3 separate regions of the Homo sapiens genome follow, and regions 1 and 2 are each linked to region 3. The links come from fine-mapping of genetic effects on gene expression. A gene starts in region 3. Each other region holds a variant in brackets. All regions are shown on one strand. Distances are between the middles of the regions.

Region 1 (10,698 bases), 31 kb after region 3:
CAAGCCAGGTAGCCTTTGCTTCTCTTCGCTGCGGGGGCACTTCCTGTGTGTTCCTCTGTTGTAGTGTATGACTCAGTGCGCGGCCTGTCTGTGACTTCAGTCCGTCTCCATGAACTCAAGGACACAGTCCAGCGTAATCATCTGTCTACCCTCTTCTAAGCACAGTGGCTGATAGAGCAGTAAGTAGCCCTCATTTGTTTTGTGAGCAAATAGATTGTAACACACAGTAATTGCAGTTGTGAAGGTTGAGCGAAGCTTCTTTTCTGCCACCCTGGACGCCTATTTGTAGGCTCCAAAACTGTGGTTCTTGATGGTTTTGGCGTCACAGAAACTTTGAGAATCTGTGGAAAGCTGTATATTCTTTCTTCAGAGAGACAGTGATTTGATTCAATACCAAGGGGCTCAGTGAAGTGCCGAACCTGTGTTCATGCACTGACCGTCTTCTTGGAATCCTGGTTTTGAGATCCTCTGTTCTGGAGGTTCCAGGGTTGTCAGTCCTCACAAATTCTCATAAAGGAGGACCAGCGGGTAAGGATAATGGTGATGATGATGATGGCAGTGATGACAGTGACAGTGACAAGCATTTTTATAATGCCTTACAACCTGCAAGTATTTCTACATACATTATATGGTGCTTAATGTAATAGAGAAATAAAACCTGTATAAAAATTATAAATGAGCTAGATAAACCTTAACAATGGACAGGTCACTTTTCTATATATTTGTACATGTGCCTGAAATGATTTAGGAGAAACCGTCATTCAAGGCTGTTTCCAAGTGAAATAAGAACCTGTAGTTCTTTATACACCTGTTTCATCAGATGTTCTGTCTCCCCATTGAGGCATACGGCACAAATAAAACAGATATAATGAACAGTGTGCATCATCCCTCGGAGAGCATGGGGATCGGTTTCTGGACCGTCCGCGCACACCCACATCTGTGCGTTCTGAGGTCCCGCAGCCGGCCCTCCACAGACGCTGCGCTTTCGCGTGCTGTGAGTACTGTGTTTTTGATTTGCCTTCAGTTGAAAAGAGTTCATGTGTAAATGGGCCTGTGCAGTTCAAACTCGTGTTGTCCAAGGGTCATTGATACCTCGTTTAAGTTAAGCAGCTTTCTAGGCCAGGCTTTGGTCTTTAGTTTTGCCAGCTCACCATGGAAAACCCTTAATGCCACACCACTAGTATTCCTTTACTTATTAAGGCAATCTGTCAGGAAACTCAGGCCTCTAATGATAAAGTTAGCTCCCTTGGCAGACAGAATTAATTAATTAATTAATTAATTATTTTCTAAGACAGAGTCTTGCTTTGTTGCCAAGGCCAGAGTCGAGTTGCAGTGGCTCAATCTCTGCCTGCTGCAGCCTGCACCTCCAAGTTGAAGTGATTCTCCTGCCTCAGCCTCCCAAGTAGCTGGGATTACAGGTGTGCACCACCACACCCAGCTAATTTTTCTGTTTTTACTAGAGACGAGTTTTTGCTGTGTTGGCCAGGCTGGTCTCGAACTCCTGATCTCAAGTGATCTGCCCACCTTGGCTTCCCAAAGTGTTGGAATTACAGGCGTGAGCCACTGTGCCCAGTCCAGAATTTTTATTTAAATGGACTTGCCGTATGTTCTTTGACCTCTATGGAAAATAGCCCTGCCATAAGTTCTTAGTTAAAAGATTCTCCAAAATGCATTTGTGGGTCCTGGTTTGCTTTTAGCTTTCTATTAATTTTTTTACTTGCCTCTTTATTCTTAGGGCTGCTTGACATTACTCTGTCTCAGACGTCCGTGTTCCTCTTATCACAGTGCTTGGCACAGGGCTGGTACCGAGTAGCTGCCTGCTCAGGGGGTGTTCATCTTTTCATAGATCCTGTGCATGTTTGTCCCATGATCCTCTTCTTTCGATTTGTTGCCCAGCTGAAGGTGTTTACATATTTAAGTGAAAAAAGGCGGGTTTGTCATGTAAATACCAAGTTAGTCTGTTGGTTGAGGCAACAAAATGGAAATCAGTTATTTTTTAAGGATCTAAAAAATTTTAAAAGGAAGTGCTTTTTCTTAATAGTGTGGCAAGCTCATTTAGAAGATGGAAACTGATTAGGAAAGTATGAACATGAGTAATATCCATATGTGGTTTTAATTGGCAGAATGTTGATTTCAGAAAGAAGTCACACGAAGTTTCATATCTACAAAGTATCAAGATTAGAGTTTAAGGTCAGTAATTTTTAAAATAAGTGTTCTAGGGCCTATGGCCGGGCGCTGTGGCTCCCGCCTGTAATCCCAACACTTTGGGAGGTGAAGGCGGGCGGATCATCTGAGGTCAGGAGTTCAAGATCAGCCTGGCCAACATGGTGAAACCCTGTCTCTACTAAAAATACAAAATTAGCTGGGCCTAGTGGCGCACACCTGTAGTCTCAGCTGCTCCAGAGGCTGAGGCAGGAGAATTGCTTGAATCTGGGAGCTGGAGGTTGCAGTGAGTCGAGATTGTGCCACTGCCCTTCAGCCTGGGGGACAAGAGTGAAACTCCGTCTCAAAAATGTGTGTGTGTGTGTGTGTGTGTGTGTGTGTGTGTGTGTGTGTTTTATATATAATACATATTAAAAATTATTTTAGCATGTTTAAAAAATCTGCTTTTGTCATTTGACTTCCACCAGAATATAAGGCTGAAACTGGACTCTGTCCGTGTCTGTATCACTTACTTAGGAACTGACTGGCATCTAGGCATCCAGCCAATACTGGTTGAATGCGTAAAATTTAAAATGGAAATAGATTGTAACAAAATACTAAAGGGAAACGCTTATCTAAATAACTATTGTTGAGAAAGCCCTTTTAAATTTGTCCTTTTTAATATAGTTAAGGCTGCTCTTCCACTTGAGACACCCTGTCTCCCATACCTTCCAAAATTACAAGAATAAGAACAACAAAGCAGTTTAGTAGCAATGCGGGTTCCTCTTTGTTTCTGCTTTGCTTACCTAGGAGCAGCCTCCTTTGTGAGATTGAGTATCTAGATTCTGAGGCTGGCCTTCCAGGTGAATATACCTGAGTTACGTGTTGTGTCCTTGGGCTGTAGAGTAGTGCTATTGCCTGTATCATCCTCTGGATTGAAAAGTATTTCTTTTGTTTTAAGTATAAAAGATGAGTATCCATTGCCATTGCACATTATTCAGCAAAAACTTGAACTCTAAAAAACGTTCAGATTAGTAGGATCTATTTTTGTTAGTATCATTATTGATGAATTTCTTAAAACTTAAGAAAATAGTTACTTCTAGAGATTCACAGATTATTTTTGAAACTGTTGGTTTTCTGGATTAAATTGAGCTCACCCAACTATCCTTTGAAAAAGCTGTTTTGTATTTTTGTTTTGTTTTGTTTTTGTTTTGAGATGGAGTCTCGCTCTGTTGCCCAGGCTGGAGTGCAGTGGCACGATCTTGGCTCCCTGCAACCTCTGCCTCCTGGGTTCAAGCGATTCTTCTGCTTCAGCCTCCCAAGTAGCTGGGATTACAGGCACCCGCCATCATGCCTGGCTAATTTTTGTATTTTTTGTAGAGACGGGGTTTCACCATGTTGGCTAGCTGATCATGAACTCCTGACCTCAGGTGATCTGCCTTCCTCAGCCTCCTGAAATGCTGGGATTACTGGTGTGAACCACTGTACCCAGCCTGTTTTGTATTTTAAGTGTCTTGGTTACTTCTGTGGAGAGGTGCAATTTACTTAAAACCAAACACTTTCTTTTAAAGGGTGGTTGAATAATGGGGGGAAATTTAGTTAGTTACCAGACTCTTTTAAGAAAAATAATATGTATGTAAACTAAAAGTAGTTTTCTTATTTTAGTAACTACATCTAAGTAAAAGTTTTTTAAAAACTCATTTGTTCTTTGTCAACTCTTCTTGCTACTTAGGAACTCTGATTCTAAACCTTCCACTCATATAAATAGAAAATTATCAGTAGCTAGTTCAGTTAACTTCATTATTCTATTTAAAAGTAACTCTTTAGGATGATTAAAGGAAGGAAAGGAAACCGTTGTGGAAGTTGTTCACTGTGTATTTGAGTAGAAATCTGTTCATAGCAAGTTGCATTTGAGAGAGGTTGAGCGTTATGAGAAATGGGGAGATGGTGGTTAGGTTAGGTGAGAGGCAGGTTGAGTTTGGGAGATGTTGAGTTTCGTTAGAAATAGGAAGATGGTGGTTGGATTAGTAGATGAGAGGCAGGTTGAGTCTGGGAGAGGTTGAGTGTTGTGAGAAATAGGAAGATGGTGGATGGGTTAGATGAGAGGCAGGTCGAGCTTGTGAGATGTTGAGTTTTGTGAGAAATAGGAAGATGGTGGTTGGATTAGTAGATGAGAGGCAGGTTGAGTTTGGGAGAGGTTGAGTGTTGTGAAGAGTGGGGAGATGGTGGTTGGGTTAGATGAGAGGCAGGTTGAGTCTGGGAGAGGTTGAATCTTGTGAGGAATGTGGAGATGGCTGTTAGGTTAGATGAAATACATGAGAAACTCAAGTGGAATAAGTGTAGGCAAATCCAGAGCTGAACTGAAACGTTTTATTGTCTTTGGGCCAATATTAAGTATTGTGAAGGAAATTACAGAGAATGGCATTTAGCCTTTTGTTGGGAAACAAACCATCCCAAAACCTCATAGCTTAGAACAGCCTCCACTCATTTGGGTCACCGTTCTGTGGGTGGGCGATTTGGGCTGGGCTCAGCTGGGTGTTTCCTTGGCTGTTTTCCACGGGCTGACTCATGTTTGATCAGTTGCTGTTGAGCTCGAGGGCCCTGCTCCCAGGAGGTGGCTGGGTGTTCGCTGCAGGCAGCAGCTCCTAGGCCCTGTGTCTGTGATCATCCCGCAGCCTGTCCTGGACCCGTTTACATGGTGGTCTCGGGGTTCTGGGTGCTCGAGGAAAGCAGCAAATCCGCTGGGCCAAGGCTCAGAACTCCTCCACTGTCATCTCCCACGTGCTGTGACACAGTTCGTTCATCCAGCCACAGGTAGGGAGGTAGGCTAACCTTGCTGAGAGGAGCTGCCGAGTACTGTGTTCATGTTCCTACTTCCAGAGGCACTTTTACCCGATTGCGTTTCCCTTTGAGGGAATCCCTTCTGAATGTTAAATGTGCATTACTATATAAAGGCTTGTGAAAATTGTGAAAATATCAATATGGTCTTAAAACTTTTCTGTCTTACATAACGATACTTTAAGTTTGTCATACTGTTCAAACATGTAATGGCATTACAGTATATCTTCAAGTTATTTTTAGCACATTTCCATTTAAACTAGAACGTAAGCAGAGATACCAGGGGGATGCTTGAAGTCTGAAGATACCAAAGCAATGCTCCTCCATCGTCTTCCTACTTCATTTTCTATCACAAAGATCTCTGAAGTTTCTTACCCCCAAAGGAATTGGAGAATTCCAGTTATCGTGTTTCTAAAGTGAAAGGCGGAGAGATGGAGTGTCTGGTAAAGGGCAGCAAGGGGTTCTTCACGATAGACTTTGGCCTGCAGATG[T/C]TCGTTTTTCTCATTAGCACCACTTCCTGCTAATTAATTTGTCACAAACTATCTCATTGATTTATTGCTGTCCCGTAGAGAATGGAATACTTGGGGAAATGGAATTGGAAGTCCATGGAAGACTGGGGGGCGTGGAAATAGACACCGAAATGAGGAGAGAATATAGGAGTGTTGATTTGGTATCTTTAGGTTTCATGCAGCCCTCTGACATCTCTGCTTAAGTTTCAGCTTAAATGGAAAAGTTTTAAAAATAACCTAAGATTCCCAGCACTTTGGGAGGCCGAGGCGGGCGGATCACGAGGTCAGGAGATCGAGACCATCCTGGCTAACACGGTGAAACCCCGTCTCTACTAAAAATACAAAAAATTAGCCGGGCGTGGTGGCGGGCGCCTGTAGTCCCAGCTACTCGGGAGGCTGAGGCAGGAGAATGGCGTGAACCCGGGAGGCGGAGCTTGCAGTGAACCGAGATTGCGCCACTGCACTCCAGCCTGGGCGACAGAGCGAGACTCCGTCTCAAAAAAATAAATAAATAAATAAATAACCTAAGATGTATTTTAATACCACTTAGTATTTTGCTAATTTTAGCTTATATTAGAGTTGTTTGTTACGGGACGTATGTGCAACAGTTAATAGGAAAGTGCTCTGTGGTAAGTTGAAATAGAAATCTTAGGATTTGAAATAGAAACGTGTAACTGTATTGACTCACTAAGCATTTTGACATTATTTCTGTTTGGAAATTTTGGGAGTGGATGTCTTTGAACACATTGACATATACATGGGGGGGAAGAAAAACAAACTTGTGGCCTTCTTTAACAGAGATTTTTAGAGAAGTAGTAAGTCCCAGCTGCCATTCTTCTCCTCAAAGAGATTAGAAAAAGAACCACATAAAAATAATCATTATTATAGGTAAAAAAAAATAGTAGCCACAGTAAAGCATACATGTTTATTGTTTACTGCTTGTAGAAAGGTTCAGTGATCATTAAATGTCAGAACGAATCGTCTTGTTTCTGTTTTTTTTAATATTTTATTTTGTTTTTATTTAGAGATGGGATCTCACTTTCTCAGACTGGAGTACAGTGGCACAATCAGGGCTTACTGCAGCCTTGAACTCCGGGGCTCAAGCAATCCTCCCACCACAGCCTCCTGAGTAGCTGGGACTACAGGCATATGCCACCATGCCCGGCTAATTTTTTTTACTTTTTTTGCAGAGGTGGGGTCTTGCTATGTTGCCCAGGCTGGTCTCGAACTCCTCAGCTCAAGTGATCCATCCTACTACCTTGGCCTCCCAAAGCGCTGACATTACAGATGTGAGCCAACATGCCTGTCACGCCTGGCTCAGTGGCCTTGTTTCTAACAAAAAATTTTCTCATGAAATGAAATGAAGATTCTGTAACAAGTTAGTTGACAAACTTTGTTAGAAACCTAATGTAGAGATGGTGACTTAAAATGTGATATTCTCATAAACAGTAAGTCTTGGATATAGTATATAGAAGATCATGTTAGCGAAGAGAATAAAAGTCTTAAATTGTTTCTTTTGGTGTTAGAGATGAATCTGCACTAGAGGCACCTAATCAGCACGGTGTACTCTGTATAAGCTAAAACAAAACACAACAGTGATTCATGTCCCAGAGTAGACCATGAAACCACTTATTAGAAATATTCCAAAGTTTACTGTTTTTAGATACAGGTGCTCATATGTGAAAGGTGAACTGATTTTTACAATTTATATTAACAAAATTGTGCAAATTCTGCCACTTTTTACCGTTACTCGTTATTTTTTAAATCAAATGAATTAGTATAACAGGTCAAAAGCAGCACTGCCCAATAGTACTGTCTTTATTTGTAATTTTATATATTTTAGTAGCCACAATAAAAAAGAATATAACAGATGAAATTTTAATAATATATTTTATTTAGTCCAACATATCAAAAAGTACAATTACAGCATGTGATTAGCGTAAGTATTAATGAGACCTTTAACATTCATTTTTTCCTATGAAGTCTTTAAATCAGTGTATATTCCACCCTTACAGCAAATTTCAGTTTCGACTAGCCCCATTTCAAATGCAAGTTTAGAGACTTATGTAGAGTTCAACTGCCTTAAAGATATTTGTGACTTTAAATTTGGATAGTGGGCTACTAGATTTTTTTTTTTTGAGGCAGAGTCTCACTCTGTCGCCCAGGCTGGAGTGCAGTAGCGTGATCTCTGCTCACTGCAACTCCTGGGTTCAAGTGATTCTCCTACCTCAGTCTCCCAAGTAGCTGGGATTACAGGTGTGAGCCACCACACCTAGCTAAATTTTTGTATTTTTATTAGAGACGGAGTTTTACCATGTTGGTTAGGCTGGTCACCAACTCTGGACCTCAGATGATCTGCCTGCCTCGGCCTCCAGGTGCTGGGATTACAGACGTGAGCCACCGTGCAGGCTATTAGATTTTCTTCTGTGAATGACGTACACGAAATAAGTGACCTAGAGCTACGTCTCTGATCATTCACTTTGGTTATAATTTTTTTGCAAATTACCTATGCTGGAATCTTTTGGGGTTGGTGGGAATGGTTTTGTTTCTGATTGTTTTTACTTCCTCAACTGTCCTAAGATTACCAGCATTCTAATGAATAGTAAACTTGAGATAACGGCTTCATGCCTAACAAGTATAATTTATCTCTGTAGTCTCAAGTGTTTGCTCTTCTTTTTAAAATGTTTCTTTTTAGAGAAATACAGCTTTGAATTCTACTACACTTTTCTGTAACGCAATGCAGTAACATGTTTTTTGTTTATTTGTAGCTATCCTATAGGGATAGGGAAAATGTAATTGAATAGTAACTGAGGAAGGGGCTACTAAAACCTGAGAAAAAATGATAGGAAAGTTACTCTTTCCCTTCATTTGGGTGATGGGAAAAAGTAGGTATGAGATCTTCTAATGGGCTTGTGAGTGCGGTAGTCTTTTTAAAGAGTCACATGGTGTGTTAATTTTCCTCTGGATATTAAGAGATCACCACCAACAAAGCAAGGCTTGATCGCCCAGGTGAGGTGGTGTGCGGAGTCGAGTCGTGTGGCGGGTGTGCATGCCCTTGTGGGAAAGGAAGTGGAAGAGTTAAGTAGTTCTGCCTGTTGAATTAGCCTGGTGTGGGTGGGTGCCAGATACCCTGGGCTAAGGACATTCAATGAGGATGTTAAAAGCCTATTACACTGGTGTTGCTGAAAATTTATTTGTTGAAGAGGCTGGTGGCCTAGATCCTGGCATGGCTTTAAAAATATTACAGTGAAGCAATTCTTGTGATGTTAAGCGAGTGTGTGAGCTCATTTTGGAGTCTTTTGACTTGGACTCTCTCTCGCTTTGGTTAATGAGTGTGGAAAAACAGCCCAGAAGTTAATTTAAAATCAGACTTTGTTTTCAATTAAAAATTGTCCATGATGGGTCATTGGATGTGAATGCAAAAAGAAAAAAAATGTCCAGTGATAGCTTTTGTAAAATTCCGAGTAAATCATGTGTCTTTTTGAGGATAAACATTTGTTATTGAAGTTCCCTCATTTAAATAGCTTTTTGGGGGGCATAATTTGGATTTGTAGCATAATTCTAATTTGATTTGACGTACAAGATACAAATCTTCTTTATGTGAAAGTATATGACATCTTAAAGTGATATTTTTACAGAGTGATTTTCCAAAAGATTTATTTAGACCAGGTCCATCATTTCCAAGTGAAGTGAAATCTTTATTCATTAACTGTAAAGTTTCTGTGGGCTTCCACAATTGCTAACATGTATAATTAATTCAAAACCCATGCTTTTCACACTTCTTTTTGAAAAGTAGTTGCTTTCTGTAAACTTGACCTTTCTGTTGTTTCAATGGCCTGTTTATTCTTTTCAGAGTTAAAAAGGTCATTTTCAGGTTTATGGAATTTTCCATGTAAATTTTGGGATCTGCATGCTGGGGTGATTTTCTGCTTTATATTTATTGCGGTACTTTTTGTGTCCTTGGGTTTAAACGAATACAGGTTATGAAAACCTACCCTGCCACATTGTGGCTGCTGCCTTTGTATCTCACAGATACACCTGTTTCATTTGGGCTTCATCAGTTTCACGTCAAGAGTTGTGACTGAAGCTTAAGTAAATATGTTTATTTTGTGCCGGCTGCTGGCTGGAAAGTCTACTGTAGCAGCTGAAGGGTGTGTGTTTTTTTGGGGGGGGGCGGGGGGGGTACTCTTGCTGGGTGAACCATCATTGTGACAGGTAAATGGAATTCGTCAATAAAGCTTGAATTGCGTCCCCCTTCATTTCTTCCGAGCTGTTGAATGTAGGGATTGTCTTGCTTGGAACCCTATTGATTAGGTCACAGCCTGGTCTGCAGAAAACAGAGCTGCCCAGGGGCCATCTCACTGCAGGGGATTTGCCGAAGCCCCTGTGAAAGGACCACATGGGGTCCGCGATTACCTTATGAACAGGAATCAGTTCAGGGAGCAGATACATATTAAGGACCTATTAACTTCTACAGGCTTCTCTTTGACTTGAGAAGCACTGGAGAGTGAAGATTCCTTCACACATAATGAAAGGAAATTATTGCCAAAGCCACCGAAGGTGCATCTTGCCATATCTCTGTGGGTGCCTCTGTTGAGTTGCAAATTTATTTCCTGCTGGGGCATCTGCTTAGCTTTAGAAGTCCCATTTAAGGTCATGAAAAGGGAATTTGGAAATGATTACATAGTGTTGGCTTTTTTTTTTTTTTTTTTTCAGCTTTGAGTCTCCATAGCATTTGGACAGAATTAGCGAACTCCCCTCATTAAAAAAATGATCTTTATTTCCAATAAAAAGGCAGTATATAGTCATTGTAGAAGCCTGGGAAAATGTAAACTACTGGAAAGGAGAAAACATGACTAAAATTTTACTACCTAGAACCCTGGTGAACTTTTCCCCTAACTCATATGTACCTGCACAAAGATGCCTTTCCAGTGCCAGGTGCGGGATTTGTAAAAATGATGAACAGAAAACATTTACTGAACGTGTAGTTTTGTTGACTGCCTTCTGCTATATCCAGAACATTTTCTGGTTGGTAGGTATTCTTAAAGAATGTGATTTTTAGAATATAGAGTGCCAGCACAGAGACAGACTAATAGAAGTTGAGCATCTTTATCTGAAATACTTGGGACTAGAAGTGTTTTGGATTTATTTGGATTTTGAGATATACGCATTATACCAGTTGACATCCCACATCCAGAAATCTGAAATC
Region 2 (7,712 bases), 170 kb before region 3:
GGATACAAAGTCATCAGTACACATCTCCTTTCCTGCTGGAGCCCCGCGTGCTGGCAGCTGGCAGTGTGGCGCCCGCCTTCAGGAAAGAGTTTGGAAGCTCTCCTGGGGGCATCTGGCCCACCTACAGGAAGAGACCAACCAGTGTAGGGGATCTGCGAGAAAATGCTCAGCCAACTCATCCCACAGGGAAGCCCGCCATCAATAAAACCCCACCCACAAGCCTAGAGTTTACCAAAAAGAGCACCAAAAACCAACCTTCAAATTAAAAATAGAACAGGAGAAATAAAACATTCAGTAGAAAGATTAGAAGATGAGGTAAAGAAATCTAGAAAGCTGATGATTAAAAACAGAAAATAGGAAAAAAAGGCCAGGTGCAGTGGCTGATGCCTGTAATCCCAGCACTTTGGGAGGCCAAGGTGGACGGATTACCTGAGGTCAGGATTTCAAGACCAGCCTGGCCAACATGGTGAAACCCCATCTCTACTAAAAATCCAAAAATTAGCATGGTGGCGTGGGCCTGTAGTTCCAACTACTCGGGAGGCTGAGGCAGAAGAATCACTTGAACCCGGGAGGCAGAGGTTGCAGTGAGCCGAGATTCAGCCATTGCACTCCTGGGTGGCACCATCTCAAACAAAAAAAAAAAAGGAAAGAAAAGAAAAATGATAATAAAATTAGAGAACTATTCAAGAAAGCCAATATCTATATCATATGAGTTTCAGAAAGTAGAAACAGGAAAAGAAAATGGAGTGGAGAAAACCATCAACTGACTCAGTCGTGAAAATGGTCCCAGAGCTCCAGGATGAATTTCTGGATTAGAAAGACCCATTCAAGTTCAACGAATGAAAATAGAACCACACTAGTGCATTTCATTGGTAAATTTATAAAGGGGGGGGCGGTGAGGGGAATGTTTTCCATATAGCAAAGGAAAAACAGATCACATATGAAGGATTAAGGATTTGAATGGCTTTGAACTTCTCAACAGCAATGTTGGAAACTAAAAGACATGAAAATGGCTTCTAAATTCTAAAGAAAAATAATTTCCAACCAGTAACTCCAGACCTGGCCGAACTATCAAGTAAGTGTAAGAATAACAACATTTTCAGACAGGCAAAATCTCCAAAAGGTGATGGCCACAGAGTGGGTGTAAGTGACCCACCAAGCTAGACCAGAGGTCAGAGTCACCAAGAAGAGGAACTCGACATTAAAGTTTGAAGGGATTGGGAGAGGATGTATACACTGGAAAACCGAGCAGATTCGGATCAACCCTAGAAACACAAAGTGACGTGTGTTTTACTCGCTTTCTATACACCTCTTCGTTGAGGGAGGAATGGCTGGACCCACAACGCCAGACACTGGCCAGGTAAGATCGATGGCCGTTGATTAACAGCAAGTGCTCACAGCCCAGGGGAGAAGAGCGATGCCCACCACTCAGGCCCTCAGGAGCAGAGTGAGCAACCAGGCGGCGGGAGCCAGGCTTTGTAGTACCACGGGGGTGAGGTGACCCCTGGTCCCCATGGGAGGGTGTGATTGGCTTGTCTGAATAAAACTCCAGGCTGGTAGGGAACCGAAACTTGTTACTCAGGAATAGGCAGGAACTGTGCCTGGTCCGCTCAGTAAGGAGGGGTGTTTAGCCAAGGGACCTTATCCACAGGTGCAGGCTTGAGGGGAACTTGAGGTTAGACCATTTGATGCCTTCCTGGTTTCACCAAAGGTCAGGGCAGCATATACCACAGGGCCTTAATTTTAGGCCTCACACCAATGTTCAGAAGAGGAAAAGTAATGATAACATACCTGTGCGTAGTCATGATTAGCATTTATATCTTACATAAATGAGTACAACTTATAGGAAGATGGGACAGACAGAAAATGTGTTGTCTGTGTTGAGAGAAAGGGGTGTTGCTGTGTGGAAGAGCTAAACCCTCATGCTCCCCCGTGGGAAGTCCACAGAGGGGATCAAATGGACATATCAGTGAGTGGCAGCATCAGCGTGATATTTACAAGCGTGGATGTAAGTGCCAAACAAATTCAGTTAAAAGTGGCTGCTTCTGGGGAAGTGGAAGTTAAGGATAAGAAGGTCAGGGGCTGCTGTTTCCTCATACCTGTTTGCCTCTTTAAATTGTATGCATGAATAAATCAGAAAATTTTTTAAACCTAATTTTTAAAAATTAACGAAGATAAGTTTGTTGTGTACAGGGGAGAACATAGAGGAATTTGTTGTTTGATACTTAATAGGTCAGCTCTAGAGGCAAGCCATGAGCTGCTTGTGGCTCTCTTCCCCCAGCTGTTCCACCTTGGAGAAGTTACACAACCTCTCTGAGCTTAAGCTGCTTCCCCTCTAAAATGGAACAATCATAACGATATCTACTACCTGGCACTCTGGTGAAGATGGACGAAATGACATAAATGGTGGACTTGCCCCAATGTCTGCCCCACAGAAAGCACCCTGCTGACGTTAGCGATCTTCCATGAGGATGACTGCTTTTCTCAGCAGGGTACCAAACACTCTTGCTATAAGGTGAGGTGGTGAGGTCTGGAGTTTGAGGAATGACACGAAAATCTCAAAGAGCTGTGAGGGAAACAGGACTAGAACTGGAAATGATCGCTCTGCAGAACGGAGGGCCCTGCTGGGGTGAGCCCAAGAACGTGTAGCAAGTTCACAGTGTCACCTGCAGCAGCAGCACTGGTGCACGGGTGGGGAAATCGGGTGTTTGGACTGACGGGGGACTGGAGTTTTGCTGAGCAAAGCGGGTAAGGGAGTGCAAAAACAGTGGCAACAGTACGATTGACGTGATGGACCCTGGAGTTCAGGCTGCAAACAAAGCCTGGAGAGAGTAGAAGCAACCTGATTGATTGGGCCTGGAGGTTTTCCGCAGCCAAAGATTATGGCAAGTAAAAGGAGGCACGTGAAACTAGTTCAGAAAAAAACATCAGAGAGCAGGGGATGGGCAGGGTTTTTATTTCCTAGCCCCATGGTATAGAATAAAATACATGCTATAGAATAGCAACTTATTTTATGTCCTCACGACAGCGTTACAGAAAAGGTAAAATGAGGAGTGGGCAAAAAAAGCCTGACCCCTTTTCATGGATATCTGGGTTGTGTTAGGCCCAGCACATATTAACTTTATTTATGTTTCACAACAGTCTTATGAAGCATAATCATGCCCTCATTTTATAAAGGGTAAACTATAGCTCAGAGAAGTTGGATAATTAACTCCAAAGTCAAGGTAAGTTCCACAGCACCCAGCTGGCAATGAACTCAGAGGCAGGTGATTGGTACTGCAGCCAGCTGTGGGAACTAGAGAAAGGCATTTATTTTTCTGACGCTCAATTTCCTAAAAGTTGAGTGGCTGGATTGGGTAATCTTTAAAACACTTCCAGAATTAACGCCCTGTGCTTCTAACTTAACAGTGTCTATGAGCATCATTTTTCTCATTTGTCAGAAAGAAGTAACCAAATCTCCCTTACCCACCTCAGAGAGCTGTGATGAATACCAAATACGATAATGCATGTAAAAGTGATTTATTAAATCAACGTATGCTATATGATCAAGAGATTAAAATATTTAGAAATACAGGGGGAAAGTTACAGTCATGACGAAGAAATATAGCGAGACTGAGATTCAAATAATATCCAGAGAACACCTCTTCCAGTCACTAGCTAGAGACCTCGGGCAGGTTAGCTGACCTTGTGTGCCTCAGTTTCCTTATCTGTAAAATGAGGATTAGAAAGTGGACTACTTCAAAAGTTGTTGTGAGAATTAAGTGAGTTGGTTTATGAAAAGTATCTTTTAAAAGCCCTTGGCGTAACGCGTGTGCTAAGAACACTATTATTGTTATTACTACACTGAAAACACAAACTTCTCAAGATTAGAAAAAAAAATCCAAAGGGAAAGCATTAGGATGCTGGAATGAGAATAAAACTGAGATTTGAAAAAATAATATATATATAGTAAGATTGGTGCAAAAGTAATCGCAGCTTTTGCCATTACTTTTAATGGCAAGAATCGCGATTACTTTTGCACCAACCTAATAAGTAGGGCCCACTTAGTCCGCTGCCAATTCCAGATGAGAAAGCGGAAATAGCCAGCAGCCGCCTGTGTATGTGACTTGTGGAGCTCCATGAAGTCTGCTCTGCTCCTCACAGTTCTCAGCCCCGCAGGAGAACCACAGTGTCTGCCATTCGAGGTTCCACTATCTGGGAATGATTGCCTCAAGTGCTGGAGAATAAGAGCAGAATAAGGCAAGTCACTGTCCTTGGACACCTAATGATGAACGAATCAGCTATTTAAACAGATAGCTCAGATACACCACAGGAACTACCAGCATTTTCTGTTTAATTTATTTACCCCCCCCCCCCAAGAAAAGCCAAGCTCCAGCTGTAGAGCTGGCACCGTTCATGCTTTACTCTCCCTACTCAAAGGACACAGTCAAGAGGTGGTGCCAGCGACCTAGCGAGGAACAGCAGGGCCTGAACTAGGGAAGTGGTATCAGGAATGAAGAGGAGGAAACAGATTTAGTTTACATTCTGGGACTTGAAACTGGCAAGGTTTGGCAACTGATCGGGAGCAATTGATGAGATATTGAAATAAAGGAAAAATTCTAGATAACTCTGGAGGAACTTTGCCAAGTGACATGGATCTACAGGGCACAAACATATCAGACATGTTTTTAAAAGTCCAAGCTTATTTTTAGAATCCCTCACACATCAGCGACTGCTAGTTTCCTACCCAAAGTCTACTAAACCATATTCTTAACTAATAAAACCTGTAAATTTCTAGGTGCAGAAAAAAAATGTCTGGCTTTCCTTCCTGATGGGGTGGCCAGTGAAATGTCAGCAAATGCATTGGATGAGATTGCTGGAAAACATCTTTGCTCCTGTCCCTTCTTTCTTAAATAGAACATGGGCAGGATAGCTGGAGGCTCAGCAGCCTTGTCTGTGGACCTGAGGTGACCTTAAGGAAAAGCACTAATAAGGATGGAGAAATTAAAAACAAAAACAGCCTGTGAC[A/G]TAGAAGGCATCACAGCACCACCACACTGGCCCTCGGCTACTTACATTTAGGTTGGTGCAAAGGTAATCACGCTTTTTGTCATTAATTTCAACAGCAAAAACCAATATTACCTCCAGTCAGCGAGGGTGGTCCCAGTGTGTCCGAAATTGGTGGGTTCTTGGTCTCACAGCCTTCAAGAATGAAGCCGCAGACCCTCACAGTGAGTGTTACAGTTCTTAAAGGTGGCATGTCCTGAGTTTGTTCCTTCTGACGTTCCAGCCTGTTCAGAGTTTCTTCCTTCTGGTGGGTTCGTGGTCTCGCTGGCTCAAAAGTGAAGCTGCAGATCTTCGGGTGTTAACAGCTCTTAAGTTGGGGCGTCTGGAGTTGTTTGTTCTTCCCAGTGGGTTCTTTGTCTCGCTGGCTTCAGGACTGAACCTGTAAATCTTCACCATGAGTGTTACAGCTCATAAATGCAGTGTAAACCCAAAGAGTGGGCAGTAGCAAGATTTATTGCAAAGAGCTAAAGAACAAAACTTACACTGTGGCAGGCCACTCTAGCAACTTGCTAGTGCTAGCGCGGAGCAGCCTGCTTTTATTCTCTTATCTGGCCCCACCCACATCCTGCTGATTGGTCCATTTTACAGAGAGCCGATTGGTCTGTTTTACAGAGAGCTGATTGGTCCATTTTGACAGAGTGCTGATTGGTGCGTTTACAATCCCTGAGTTCGACACAAAAGTTCTCCACGGCCCCACTAAATTAGCTAGAAACAGAGTGTCGATTGGTGCATTCACAAACCCTGAGCTAGACACAGGGTGCTGATTGGTGTGTTTACAAACCTTGAGCTAGATACAGAGTGCTGATTGGTGCATTCACAATCCCCCAGCTAGACATAAAGATTCTCCAAGTCCCCACCAGACTCAGGAGTCCAGCTGGCTTCATCCAGTGGATCTCACACCGGGGCCGCAGGTGGAGCTGCCTGCCACTCCGTCGCCGTGCGCTGGCACTCCTCAGACCTTGGGCAGTGGATGGGATCGGGCGCCGTGGAACATGGGGCAGCGCTCGTCGGGGAGACTCAGGCCCGGCAGGAGCATCTGGCAGTGCGGAGGGAGACTCAGGCATGGCAGGCTGCAGGTCCCCAGCCCTGCCCGAGGGGAGGCAGCTAAGGCACGGCAAGAAATCCAGCACAGAGCCGGTGGGCCGGCACTGCTGGGGGACCCGGCACACCCTCCGCAGCTGCTGGCCCGGGTAGTAAGCTCCTCACTGCCCGGGACTTGCGAGCCGGCCTGCGGCTCCCAGTGTGAGGCCCGCTGAGCCCACGCCCACCCGGAACTCGTGCTGGCCCGCAGGCACCCGCGAAGCCCTGGTTCCCGCCCATGCCTCTCCCTCCACACCTCCCTGCAAGCTGAGGGAGCTGGCTCCGGTCTCGGCCAGCCCAGCAAGGGGCTCCCACAGTGCGGCGGCGGGCTGGAGGGCTCCTCAAGTGCCGTCAAAGTGGGAGCCCAGGCAGAGGAGGCGCCGAGAGCGAGCGTGGGCTGCGAGGGCTACCAGCACACTGTCAACTCTCACCACGGCCATCCCTCTTTCCAATCAAGCCGACCTGGAAAACAGAAACTCAAAGCAAAGAGCTCATCCTACTTCCTCTTTACCCTCCTGTCTGTCACCTTGCTGAAGAATCTCACTCATGTGCACATCAGTTTCAAGTTCTGTCTCTATTCTCTGCATGGCCACGGAGAAGCCACCAGCTGATACCAGAGCGGCAAAGGGTTGTGTGGGAGATGAGGAATTCCGCCTGGAAGAGGCTGAGTGTAAGTGGACTTGAGGAGAACCAGGGGACGATGCCCACACTGGAGCTGGAGGGGCCTGGAGCTCGGGAGAAGGGCGCTGGCTGGAGGTTAGGTGGGGGTTTGGGACCATGAACGCGGGTGGGTCGCTCGGGAGAACACGTGGAGGAACGAGAGCAGCGGGGGGTGAAAGAGCCCTGGGGCGCCGGCCTCCCGCATGCTGTGGAGGACCCCTAAGGATGGCAGAGAATGCCCAGCGCCGCCCATGAATGAGAACGAGGGAAAAACGCCTCACGTAGAGCCGGGCGTCGGGATTGTCCAAACGGAGAGGTCCCCTTAGCGAAGTGCGCCTCGGCTTAGTTTAGACGCGCGCTGTCCTGCCAGAGGGCTGCGATGAGACGTGGGCACCGGGGCTGCTCTGGAGCGCCCCTGACGGCACGGCCGGGGAAGTGAGGAGCCACAGGCAGCGGAGGGCAGGAAGGCGGGAGGAGTGGCAGGAAGGCGGGAGGAGTGGCAGGAAGGCGGGAGGAGTGGCAGGAAGGCGGGAGGAGTGGCAGGAAGGCGAGGGACAGCCTCCGCTTCCAGCGTCCCCCAGAACGCGGAGAGGCAGCCTGAGTCTTACTCTCCCACCACATCAATTCCCAGCACCGTGGGCCCCGGGGCCACTTTATTTTTTGTATTTTTTTGAGATGGGGTGTCTCTGTCGCCCAGGCTGGAGTCCGGTGGTGCGATCTCGGCTCACTGCAACCTCCGCCTCCCGGGTTCACACCATTCTCCTGCCTCAGCCTCCGGAGTAGCTGGGGTTACAGGCCCCCAGTCCACTTTCTTGGAGTCTGCTGTGTCTGACCAAAAAGCCCATCTTCGCCACATCTAAAGCTGGAAGTTCATTTGCCAGCGTTGTTTAGAGCAAAAAGGTGAGAAAAGTAGCTTAAAGTATAAGACA
Region 3 (10,698 bases):
CAGGCTGGAGTGCAATGGCGCCATCTCAGCTCACTGCAACCTCTGCCTCCCGGGTTCAAGTGATTCTCCTGCCTCAGCCTCCCGAGTAGCTGGGATTACAGGCACCCGCCACCATGCCCAGCTAATTTTTGTATTTTTAGTAGAGACGGGGTTTCACCATATTAGCCAGGCTGGTATCAAACCCTTTCCCTCAGGTGATCCACCCGCCTCAGACTACCAAAGTGTTGGGATTACAGGCATGAGCCACCGTGCCCAGCCAGGTGTCTAATGTTCTAATGGCTCCCTCTGAGAGTACAAGCTGATTCCGGAGAAGAGCTGTATTTGAATGCAAAGGGTAAAATAATTCCAAGGTGCAGGGGAAGTGGAGAGGGCTGATATTTCCTCTCACCTCCAGGAAGGGGAGGCCGCAATGGGCACACAGGCAGATGAGAAAGCAGTGAAAGCAGCAGAGAGGGTGGGATGCCAGGAGTCAGTCAAGCCTACTTAGAAGTATTTGGTCCTAGGGCTATTCCAAAAAATGTCTCAGAATTGTTTCCTGCTTTAAATCTATGATTTCCCCTGGTTTTATGAGTCAGCAAAGACGGAAAACAACTAAAAGGCCATGTTAATATTTCTTAATCACTAAACACACCTACCTCATTAAATCTTGGGTCTTACATATTTTCACCCAGCATATTGTTGGTACTTGATAAATATTTGCTGAATGAATGAATCCTTCCATGATTCTGGGTCCTCCCTTATACTTCAGAGGTGACTCAGTATTGGACACACTGAAATTTTAATGCTTGATGTAGCCTTCCATAAAATAGCAGTGTTTTTAAAGGTCTAGACCAAGGTGTCCAGTGGAACTCTGTCATGACGAAAATGTTCTTTGATCTGCTGCGATCAATACAATTGTCACTAGCCACACATGGTCACTGAAACTCGGAATGCAGCTGGTGAGACTCAGGAAGTGCCTTTTAATTTAGTTTAACTGGAAGTAGCCACAGGGGGCAAGTGGCTGCCCACTACATTAGCACAGCTCTAGAGGTTCTGTTAAAAGTTTTCTGCCCATCTCACTTTGAAAACCAGCTATTTTGACTAATATCATCAATTGTTATTCATAAGTTCCTGTCATTTGTGATTTTTATCTTTTTTAAGTAATTTGGTTTATTTATTACAACTTTAAAGTGAGTATAGCAAACCAAATGGACTTCAGCGAGAAGCCTCTCGGGGTGAATTTATTGTGAATCATTTTGAGGACTTGCAATATGTGGTCAATTTCTAATTTCAACTATTGACACAAAAGGAGAGAGCCTGTGTAGTTGAAACAGGGAAGCAGGAGAAGTCCGCTGGGCACTGACAGACTGGCCTCTCAAGCCAGCCTCCTCCCTCCTTAGGAATCTGGCACCCTCTAGCTGCCCTCGGGGTCTGCAGGAGCTCTAAAATCCCTTCCTATATCCCTCCGTGTCCTAGCTCCCTGGATCCTCTCCTCCCTTCCAAATCAAAATGTACCTTGAGGGAGAGGCTTGGGCAGGAGGATCTCTTGAGCCCAGGAGACCTGACTTGAGTCTGGAGACCTGCCTGGCAGAATCTCCAATCAGTGGTGATGATGCTGATTTTATGGATTAAAAACTGAGACACTGCCAAGAAGTGAGGGAAGGGAGCGGGGGAGGGCAGGAAAACTAATATTGTTTAAGTACCTACTATGTGCGTGCTAGACACTTCATATGATGCTCAGTAAAAATGCTTTGCCTGCATGAATAACTGTTATCTCCCTGGCAAGTAGAGTGCAGTATGTTTTTTTTTTGAATGGATAAACACATGAATACATTTTTACCACATGAAGCAGATATTAGTCCCATATCACAGATGAGGACACTGACATTTAGACAAGTTATGACTTCAAGGCTAAACACACACAACATTCCAATCACCTAATCTTGTTCTCTCCTTACTGTTTAGCTCCCTGCCCAGTTTCCTCTGTGCTCAGAATTTTGCTCTTGACCTTTGTAAAAGAACGACCAGCTAAACTGATCAACATATTTATACCAACGGATGCAAATATGATAGAACCGCCCCCAGCCCCCTTTTGCAAGGATCTTGAATGTTAATGACAATCTTCTGGGGACAATGTCAACTCACAGAAATGGCTCCCTCGGAATTTCACGCTGTTCGGGGAGGTATTTTGGTACTTTAGTGGCATTAAAAATATATTCCACAGCAGATATTTTCCTGGAGGCTGGACACTTACATAAAGACGACGCATTCTTTATAAATTAAACCTCAACAGTGTTTGCATTTATCTAAATGGATATTATTTCGAGGAGGAGACAGTGATTTGCGTATTAGCCCCTATCACTAGGGATGACTTGTAAGACACATTAGGAACTGGCTCCTCCCCTATCCCTTCGCCCCCTCCTCTCAGAACCTTATAAGCTTCAGAGTACGGTCAAGACAAGAGGAGCATTGGGAAAGAATTTGAAAATAAAAATACAGCTCCGTGATTTTCAACACAAAGACCACGAAGAGCATAATAATAAGTCGTGAAAAAAAATTCACATCCAGAAGTTGGAGGGCCACAAAGTACAAGTCGTCCAGGCCAGTCTGCAGAGACTGTTCATGCTTCCGCCCAGCAAAAATCTGGCAGGCGACACATCGCGACGAATTTCGGCTGCAGAAGAGGAAGAGCATCACCTGCAGTCCGCGGCGTGGGAAACGCCGCCGGAGGGGCTCCGCGAGCCGGGGAAGTGCGCGCAGCGGGGCTCCAGGCGGCTCCAGGCGCTGAGTGCGAGGAACGCCCGCGCTCGCCGGCGCCCGGGAGACGCAGCCGAAGGAGGAGGGCGGGCGTTTCACCCGCGCCACAGCTGCGGCCGGCCAGAGAGACCGCAGAGGCCGGGACCCCCGCAGCCTCCACGGCCGCTGCTGCCACTGTCGGGGTGGCGCGCCCAGCCGGAGAATCCCGTCCGCGCCCGGGGCGGGGGGCGAGGCGGGGCGCTGACGTCACCTCCCCTCCCCCACCGCCTCCAAGGGGGAGGGAGTGGGGAAAGAGGCAGCGAGTCGCCGCAGCCGGCGGCCGCAACTCCTCAACTCGGCGGCTGGCTGCCTGGGCACGTCCTGACAAACTTGGCTGCTCCCGGGCCCTCGTTCCGGCCCCGCGCACTCTCTTTTCGCCTGCGTTTGGTGCTTAAGTTTGCCCTGGTCGGAAGCCTCCGGAGATGCGGCCGCCTGGGTCCCGGCGGCACGGACGTTGGCACTCTGGTTAGGGACATGCTGAAGATCCCGGGGAGGCAAAGTTGGTACTTCAAACCCGGCTCTTAACACATATCTACACCGCGAGGGGATCACGGAGCTGCCGAGGACTTTAGAGCCCAGGGCCGAGGACTCGGCTAGACTGGTGAGTTCTTTGTTCAAATCGTGCATGCCTTTTGGCATTTAAGTTTAAACGTTAATGAAATTACGTGGGGTGTGTGGCTCTAAGCGAGTGCGGGGAAGCGTGTGCGCCCTACGGGTTCTCGGCTCCAGGAGCTGCGCATCCCTCTGGCTTTGTGCGGATCGGCGATGAAAGATTCGTATGCATAGCTTTGGGAGTTCATAAAATACATATAGAGCACTGTTAAAAAGAACTTGAGAGGCGATGCTGTTTGTGCATTATTTTGAATGTAACTTATTATAGCAATGGTGCCTAGGGAGGGCGCATCGGGGCCGCGAGATTTGCAGGGGCGCAGCGCCCTCTAGTCCGGGCACCTGGCGAGGCGCGCTCCTTGCAGGGTTCTGTGCGGAGGCGAACCTGGACCTCCCCGGCGCTCGGCGACGTGGGCGCTTGCTCACCCCAGTCTTCACTGACCACCCACCCGGGCCCATTCTTTATATGAGTTACAAAAATCAGCTTGGGTGGACTGGATGTAGAGGCCGTGCTGGAGGAAAGCGTTTTGTTTCTGGAACCGTCTCCCCAACCCCCTCCCTAATTTCCACGAGCCTTTGGGGACAGGGTTAGGGAGGGTCGATTATTTAAAGGACAAATGTGGAACTTGAACCACATTTCTCTCTCTCATATAAAATAATTCGATTTGTGGTAGCTAATAGGCATGTCCATTTCGTTCTGTTGGCGCTTAAGGATCAGTAGAATCGTGGCAGAGTCCTAAGTCTGAAATCTCCATCCCTGGCTCTCGGCGGCTCCTGTGGCGACGAAGTGCAACTTCTTCCAGGCAGATAGATTTCTCAGGGAGCCTGGAAAATCGGGATTCCCAGACAGATGTAAAACATCTAGTAAGCCCTAGGAAGCGTTATTACTTATTAATTAATGGTAATCTTCTCCAGGAATTCTCTTGTGCCATTTAAAAAAAATCCCGTGATTTTACGTCAGGGAATGGTATCTTTGTACTTTTTTTACTGTTCTTCTTTTCCCCTTTTAGCATTACTCCCGCTTCCTCGCTCCCAGGAAACGGCTGGAGTTCCGGTGTGTTTGGGTTTTGCTGAGATTTACAATTCGGCAAGCGGCACAAGCCGGTTGGGCTTGGAGATCAGGTCACCCACTTTCGAGGTGTTCCATGTATGAAATTGACCTGTAAGCACTTGGAGCAATTATGGCCGGGACAAACACGTCTTTGGATGATGGAGTTTGCATTTGCTGGATGTGTGAATCTATGTGTATTCCAACTGGTGGGCAGGGAATATAGGGCTACGAATCGGCACACTCATCTTGCAGGCATTATTTTTCCTTCCCAGCCACAACCTGCTAGACACCTTTATTATTATTATTTTTTCCGGTCACCTCTAAGATGGCTTATAAGGTGACTGCGTTAACTTTGAACCCAGGAAATTCTCTTTCACACTTGACTGCCCTGCCGTTCCCCTCCCCGCCAAGCTCCCCTCACCAGTCCCAGGGAAATCGGATCTCTTTGTCTTCCCAGTGTTAAAATGCCTGAGTCCCACAAACTTTCCGAGATCAAGTCCGCCCTCTTGTCCGGGCTGCGTCCCAGCGCCTCCGGCCCTCCGGGCTTCGGCCGAGTCCGCCCTGCGCCGAGCCTGCGGCTGGAGCCCTGCCCGCACCGGGGATGGGCTCCGCGCCCGGGACGCTCAGGCTGGGCGCCCGGCGCGGGGAGTTCTCGGAGCGGGCTTCTCGGCGCTGGGGCTTCCCCTCTGCCTAGGAACTTGCAGTTGTCGGCCTGGGGTCACGCTTTGGGGCCCCTGGGGCCGACTCCCGGGCTAGGAAGCCCGCGGGACGCCGCGACTGCCTTTTGTCCCACAGGCCTGGGCGTCCGGGGTGTCAGCGGGGGAGGCCAGGCGCCCGCGGCGGGGAGGGCCTGGGGTCTAACTCGGCAGAAAAAGGTCGCGGGGGAAGCGTTTCCATTTTCTGGGGATTGAAGGAGGAAGTAGATTCCGACCTAGCTGCATTCCTTTGGAGACCTGAAGGACGACTTCAGCCCACCAAACCTTCGCGGACCCAGAGCCGCGCCATTCAAATGCAGATTCAGGGGCTCCCAGAAGGCTATGGAAAAGCTAAAGGGATGCCTCTGGGAAGCTTTCTCATTAGGCCCCAGCCTTTTTTTTTTTTTTTTTTTTTTAGCTAAGCTAACGTTTCCCTTTCTTGGCAGGGAGCTTTCCCCAATTCCTTGCACAGCGCCTGTGGCTGGCCGTAACTAACCTCGGCATCACAAGCCTCGCCCTGCCCCTCGGAGCCGCGCTAGACCCCGCTGGGCGCCTTCTCGTCTCCCAGCACGGACCTGGTGTTCGCAGGGACTGGGGCTCTTTGGGTCCGGGCGGGACTGCGTGGCCGAGCCCGCGGTCCCAGAGCCGGCAGCCGGGGAAAGTGGGCTCGAGTTTCCGCGCCCGAGAAATGAGCGCCGGCGCCGGCGGGCGGGGCCGGGGCGGAGGGATCTCCTGCGCTCGGGGAGCGTGAGGCGCCGGCGCCGAGCTGGGCGGCCGGGCGCGGGGAGAGGGCGCGGGAGCGGCTCGTGCGGCAGGTACCATGCGGACGCGCGAGCCCGGCGAGGGCCCCGGCAGGCCCGGTCCCTGCTCGGGGGCGCGCTGAGACGGCGGGTGAGCTCCACGAGAGCGCCGTCGCCACTTCGGGCCAACTTTGCGGTTAGTTCGCTGGGGCGCGGGCCGGCGGGCGGGGGCGAGAGCGTGCAGCGCGCTGCGGTGCGGACTCTGTGGGTGTCCGCCCGGTCCCCGGCTCGGGCTCCGGCGCTGCCGAAAACGGATGAGCGCGCGACTTCCCGGAGGGTGGAGTGACTCGGTCCTTCCCAGTTGGGAAATTCAGCACTGGCTAGGGGGGTCCCGGCGGCGGAGCGGGAAAAGGAGGCGACCGCGCGGGACCGATCCGGGGCCATTGCTGGGGTCCGATCCTTTCTGACACGCCGCCTTCCCTCCGGGAGCTCGCCGGGCTGCGCCGGCCTCGCGGTCTCCTGGGGCATCCCGCCGTCTGCGAAAGACCCGCTCGCTGAGCGGTGCACGCGGGAGGCCTGCGCGGGGCTGCCGGGTCCCTGGGTCTCTGGGTGTTTGCGCCCTGCAGGAGCGCTGCCCGGAGGTGCAGATGCAACCGGTGGACTGCGGAGTGAAGGGCTGCGAGGCTGCATTTCGGGGCTGAACATCTGCACAATGTGCGGTTTGTCAGTGTTTTCTGTCTTCTCTGGAGGAGGAACTTCTAAGATCTTTTTAAAAGAAAGAGTTTTTGGTCCTTCATTGCCTTTAAAAAAAAATGCTTTCTTTTAGAGAGCCAGCTTTCTGCTGTGTGTTAGATTTTTTTGTTCCCGCTGATGTGAATTGCAAGGCTTTGGAAACAAGGACGCAATTGTATGAGTTAGGAAAGTAAACTCATAAATATTTTCTATGCAGTTAAGTTTTTTTTTTTGTCTGAACTGTGGTTTCATTAAGTGGCTTTTGTTAAGCAATTCCCGGGTGCCTGATAGAGGCGATTTTTTAAAAGTGGATATTAACAGTGATTATTAGTATGAGAAAAGATTGAAAAGAAAATGACCTTCAGATATTCATTTCCTTTTCAAAAGCAGATTCTTAATGCTTCGTATATTCAGATACAGGTTTCGATAGTTTAAGAAGGTATCTGTGTGTGAGAACTAGGTAATGGTGATGTTTTTCACACTATTCTTAATGAGTTTGGTTATGCTGTCCAACACATCCAGTTGTTACAGGGACGTTTGAAAAGGTGTTTCTCCAGTTAATAGTTAATTGTGATATTTGTCTTTGTCTTTTTGTCTTAGGAAGACAGCTCTGATTCCACAGTTAGAATTATTCCTTTGTATTTAAGATGTAAAAATACTTAAAGCACTATGTAATTTTTTAAAACAACAATTGGTATAAGCCTTGAGTGATGCTAAACATGGCATTTAACAAGCTCAAGGTAAGGTTTGATTTGAATGAAGTTTGCATTTGTATAACCATTTTTTGAAAAATGAACACCTTAAATGAGCCAAATTCTTTGGCACTCTGGAAAGAAGTGTGGTTGTTAGAGGACTTTATAAAATCATTTCGGGCCACCTGTATATTCATTTGTCTCTTTTGAAGTATCCCCGTTGGGTTCTCATCATGTTAGTAGATCATTTAAATCCATGGTCCGGACAGGTGCCAACAGAAAAATGTTTAAAAATTATGGCCGGGCGTAGTGCCTCACGCCTGTAAACCCAGCCCTATGGGAGGTCGAGGCGGGCGGATCACCGGAGGTCGGGGGTCCGAGACCAACCTGACCAACATGGAGAAACCCCGTCTCTACTAAAAATACAAAATTAGCGGAGTGTGGTGGTGCATGCCTGTAATCCCAGCTACTTGGGAGGCTGAGGCAGGAGAATCGCTTCAACCCGGGAGGCGGAGGTTGTGGTAAGCCGAGATCGTGCCATTGCAATTCAGCCTGGGGAAAAAAAAGAAAAGAAAAAGAAGAGAAGAAAAATCTTTAAAAATTATGCACAAACTAATTCTGTTTTCATTCCCCTGATCATCCTCTACCTTTCCATTGCCTTTAGACTTTGCTTTGAGGTCCCTTTGAAGCAGTCGTTTCTTTGAATGTTAGAGGTGGATAGGATCTTAGAGATTATGTTTTAACACTTTACCCGCTTGCTTTCCACCCAAGTTTGGCTGATTTTACGTAGAATCAATCAGCCAAATCAAATTAGTACATTATTATTGCATTAGATTCTGTCTCAGTGGCATAATTTGTAGCCTAAAGGACCTGATTTAATAGCAGGGAGCCGTAAGGCTGGATGTGCTGTTTAATCTTTATGAGTGGGATTTGCGCTAGATAATTGTTCTTTTGACCAAATTATGTAGAAGTTGAAGCCAAACTCTATCTTTTGGTCTCACTTAATTGTTCAGTTTGCAAGTGCTTATTTATCCTTAGACACTGGAGAAGAGTTTTTGAAATGAGTGATATACATCAGTTAAGATCAGGAAGTTGCCATTTTCTCATACCTGAGGGGAACTTTTCATTTCAAAAATATATTCTGATGAGGAATCTGCATATTTCACTCTTTTAAGTTTTTTAAGTCATCTTTTACTGTAAGTCCCAGATTTAAATACATTGCCTGAATTCTTGCTTAATTCCAAGGGTTCATTATGTATGTGAAGATAAGTCTATAAAGTAAAAATAATAAAGGCTTCTATACACTGCTTAGGAAATATTAGTCATGATTTAATCTGTATCCTTCATAGAATATTAAGGTTAGAGCTTTGTGATAATCTGCAACACAGACACTGATCTGGCATTATCTATAGCCAATTTTGAGGCAGCGTAAGGTGGGTGGTGACCTCTTTCTGAGCTATTGGAAATGAGTCCTCTACAGAGCAGCCACCTGCAGTGTTGTTACCAGCCTCGTGGTTGTGCCTGGATTTTCTGTTAATTTGAGAAGGATGGATGTTTTATTTTCCTATGTTATCCCTCTCTATATCCCCTCCCCAACACAGTCCTGCCTCACATTTCTCACTCTTAACGCTTTATTCATCTGTCCATTTACCAATCCAACAATAGTGGACCTCCTCTGTGTCAAACATTGGGCCAGACACAACATCTAGTGCTGAACAAATCGTGTTTCCTGCCCTCAAGCAGCTCGTAGTCTGATAAGGGAGAGGACAAGTACACAGTCTCTTATAGACCAGTGTGATAAGAGATCCATTCAGGTCAAGGTGGTCCATAGCAGCACCTCAGTGAGCTGGGGGATCTGGGGCAGGTGGATTTAGGATAATGTGAGTTCTGAGGGAAGTGTGAATCAGAGGGGAACAATTCAAGCAGAGGAAATGATGTGTGCAAAGCAAGTTATAGAAAGCATAGTGTGGCTTGTGGTGTGATGAGTGGAGAGAAATTCTGAAGACCTCACCGTACCATGTTATCTTAGGAAAAGGATTGGCTTCTTTTTTTTGTCTAGGTAGAACATAGAGAATCTTGACTATGACTTAAATAATCTTATTAAAAAAGGGAGGATTGTTTTTATGAGGCAGAGGTTAAGGAGAGAGAAAAAGAAAGAAACGTTGAAGAGAAAGGTGAAAACAAATAAGCTGTATGTGAGGAGTGGAGGGCAGGAAACAAAGAAAATAGTAATGTTTGCATTATCTTTCGGAAGGGAAGAGGTCAAGATGTTACATTACTTTAGAGCCTTCACCACTAGGTGGTGTTATTGGCTCAAGACAGCTTGGTTACTGAACTTGTTGCAAGTCTGGGAAGTATGCCTTTTTGTTTTGAAATAAGAAGTAGTGTTGGGAAATTAGGAAATTAGTTAGAGGTTAGATTATCAAAGGTCTTTAATGCAAGGTTAAGAATCATATACTTAGCAGGCTAAGGGGAAATACTGAATATTTTCAAGCTAAAGAATAATATCACAAAGAAGTTTGAATAGGTTGACTGGGATTGGGGGCAGAAAGCAGGAATACCAAAAGACTGTAGGAATACTCTGCATGAACAAAATACCCATTCTAACTAGGTGGTAGCAGCAGAAATGCAAAGGGAACCATTTTGAGAAATTGAGAAAGAAATGTCAAGTTTGGATAACTTTTGAGAAATGAAGGTTTGAGAGCCAGGAGGCTGTAAAGATTTTAGTCCATCCTTCAATTTCTCGAATACATAGAGTCGAAAGGATTAAGCAAGTTCCTTGAATTCACACAGTTGATTAGTGACAAAGCTGGAGCTAGGTTCCACATTTGATGTTCTCCCAACCCCTTCCTTTTTGTTTGATTTGTTAGTTTGCAAACTTGGTTGATTTGGGAAGTGGTGAGATTGGAAAATAACTGGAAGAGCTGTTATTTTGCAATGGCGAAAGGGTGAAAAGTCTATATAGTTGTCCCTTGGTCTCTAAGGGAGGTTTGGGATTTTATACCCAAATCTGAGAATGCTCAAGTCCCTGATATAAAATGGGGTACTATTTATATTTTTACTGTTTTATTGTTTATTTTAAAGACGTTCTCAACCTGAGGTTGGTTGGATCCATGGATGCAGAACTCTTATATAGTGAAGGCCAATCGTATAACTTAGGTTTGATGGTATTTTAGGAGGAATGTTACGAGGTGTTTGAGAGAGGTTAGAGCTGAAATTGCAGATTTGGTGCACTGATCCTTCATGATTTGAGGCAGAGTAGATGAGATCTTTAAGGGTGGTAATAAATGCATGTGGAGGAAGAGTTGGAAGACAAGTTTGTAATGCCAGAGTTGTAGGTGAGTCAGTGTAGAGTATAAAAGAGTATGGAAGAGAATCAGGAGAATGTTGTCATTCATTTTTCA

Direction of the effects. Positions count from the first base shown, and alleles are read on the strand shown. Sizes are in standard deviations (SD) of each study's normalised expression. Not every link is listed here.
For the expression in tibial nerve of the gene that starts at base 5,874 in region 3, T is the high allele of the variant in region 1 and C is the other (small effect, 0.37 SD a copy in GTEx).

Evidence for each region. PIP is the estimated chance that this variant, and not a neighbour inherited with it, causes the effect. A credible set is the group of variants that fine-mapping cannot tell apart.
Region 1: its variant is the best candidate, but not a certain one, in a credible set for the expression of FAT1 in tibial nerve (GTEx, PIP 0.61).
Region 2: its variant is the best candidate, but not a certain one, in a credible set for the expression of FAT1 in fibroblasts (GTEx, PIP 0.73).

The regions. Positions count from the first base shown.
Region 1 is chr4:186,687,619-186,698,316 of GRCh38, reverse strand. The region is part of intron 2 of FAT1 (FAT atypical cadherin 1); the gene reads left to right. Among named protein-coding and RNA genes, the nearest start is that of FAT1, 31 kb to the left of the region's middle. RefSeq lists enhancers at 8,135-8,634, 9,866-10,486. The variant T/C (reference allele first, on the strand shown) is at 5,472.
Region 2 is chr4:186,888,775-186,896,486 of GRCh38, reverse strand. The region is part of intron 1 of LOC102723906 (a long non-coding RNA gene); the gene reads right to left. LOC105377599 (a long non-coding RNA gene) reads right to left here and starts at 7,220. Exons shown (of 3, transcript XR_939596.2): 1 at 5,119-7,220; 2 at 4,026-4,216; 3 at 3,504-3,707. The variant A/G (reference allele first, on the strand shown) is at 5,008.
Region 3 is chr4:186,719,032-186,729,729 of GRCh38, reverse strand. FAT1 (FAT atypical cadherin 1) reads left to right here and starts at 5,874. Exons shown (of 27, transcript NM_005245.4): 1 at 5,874-6,066. RefSeq lists enhancers at 2,748-3,249, 4,432-5,431, 5,932-6,433.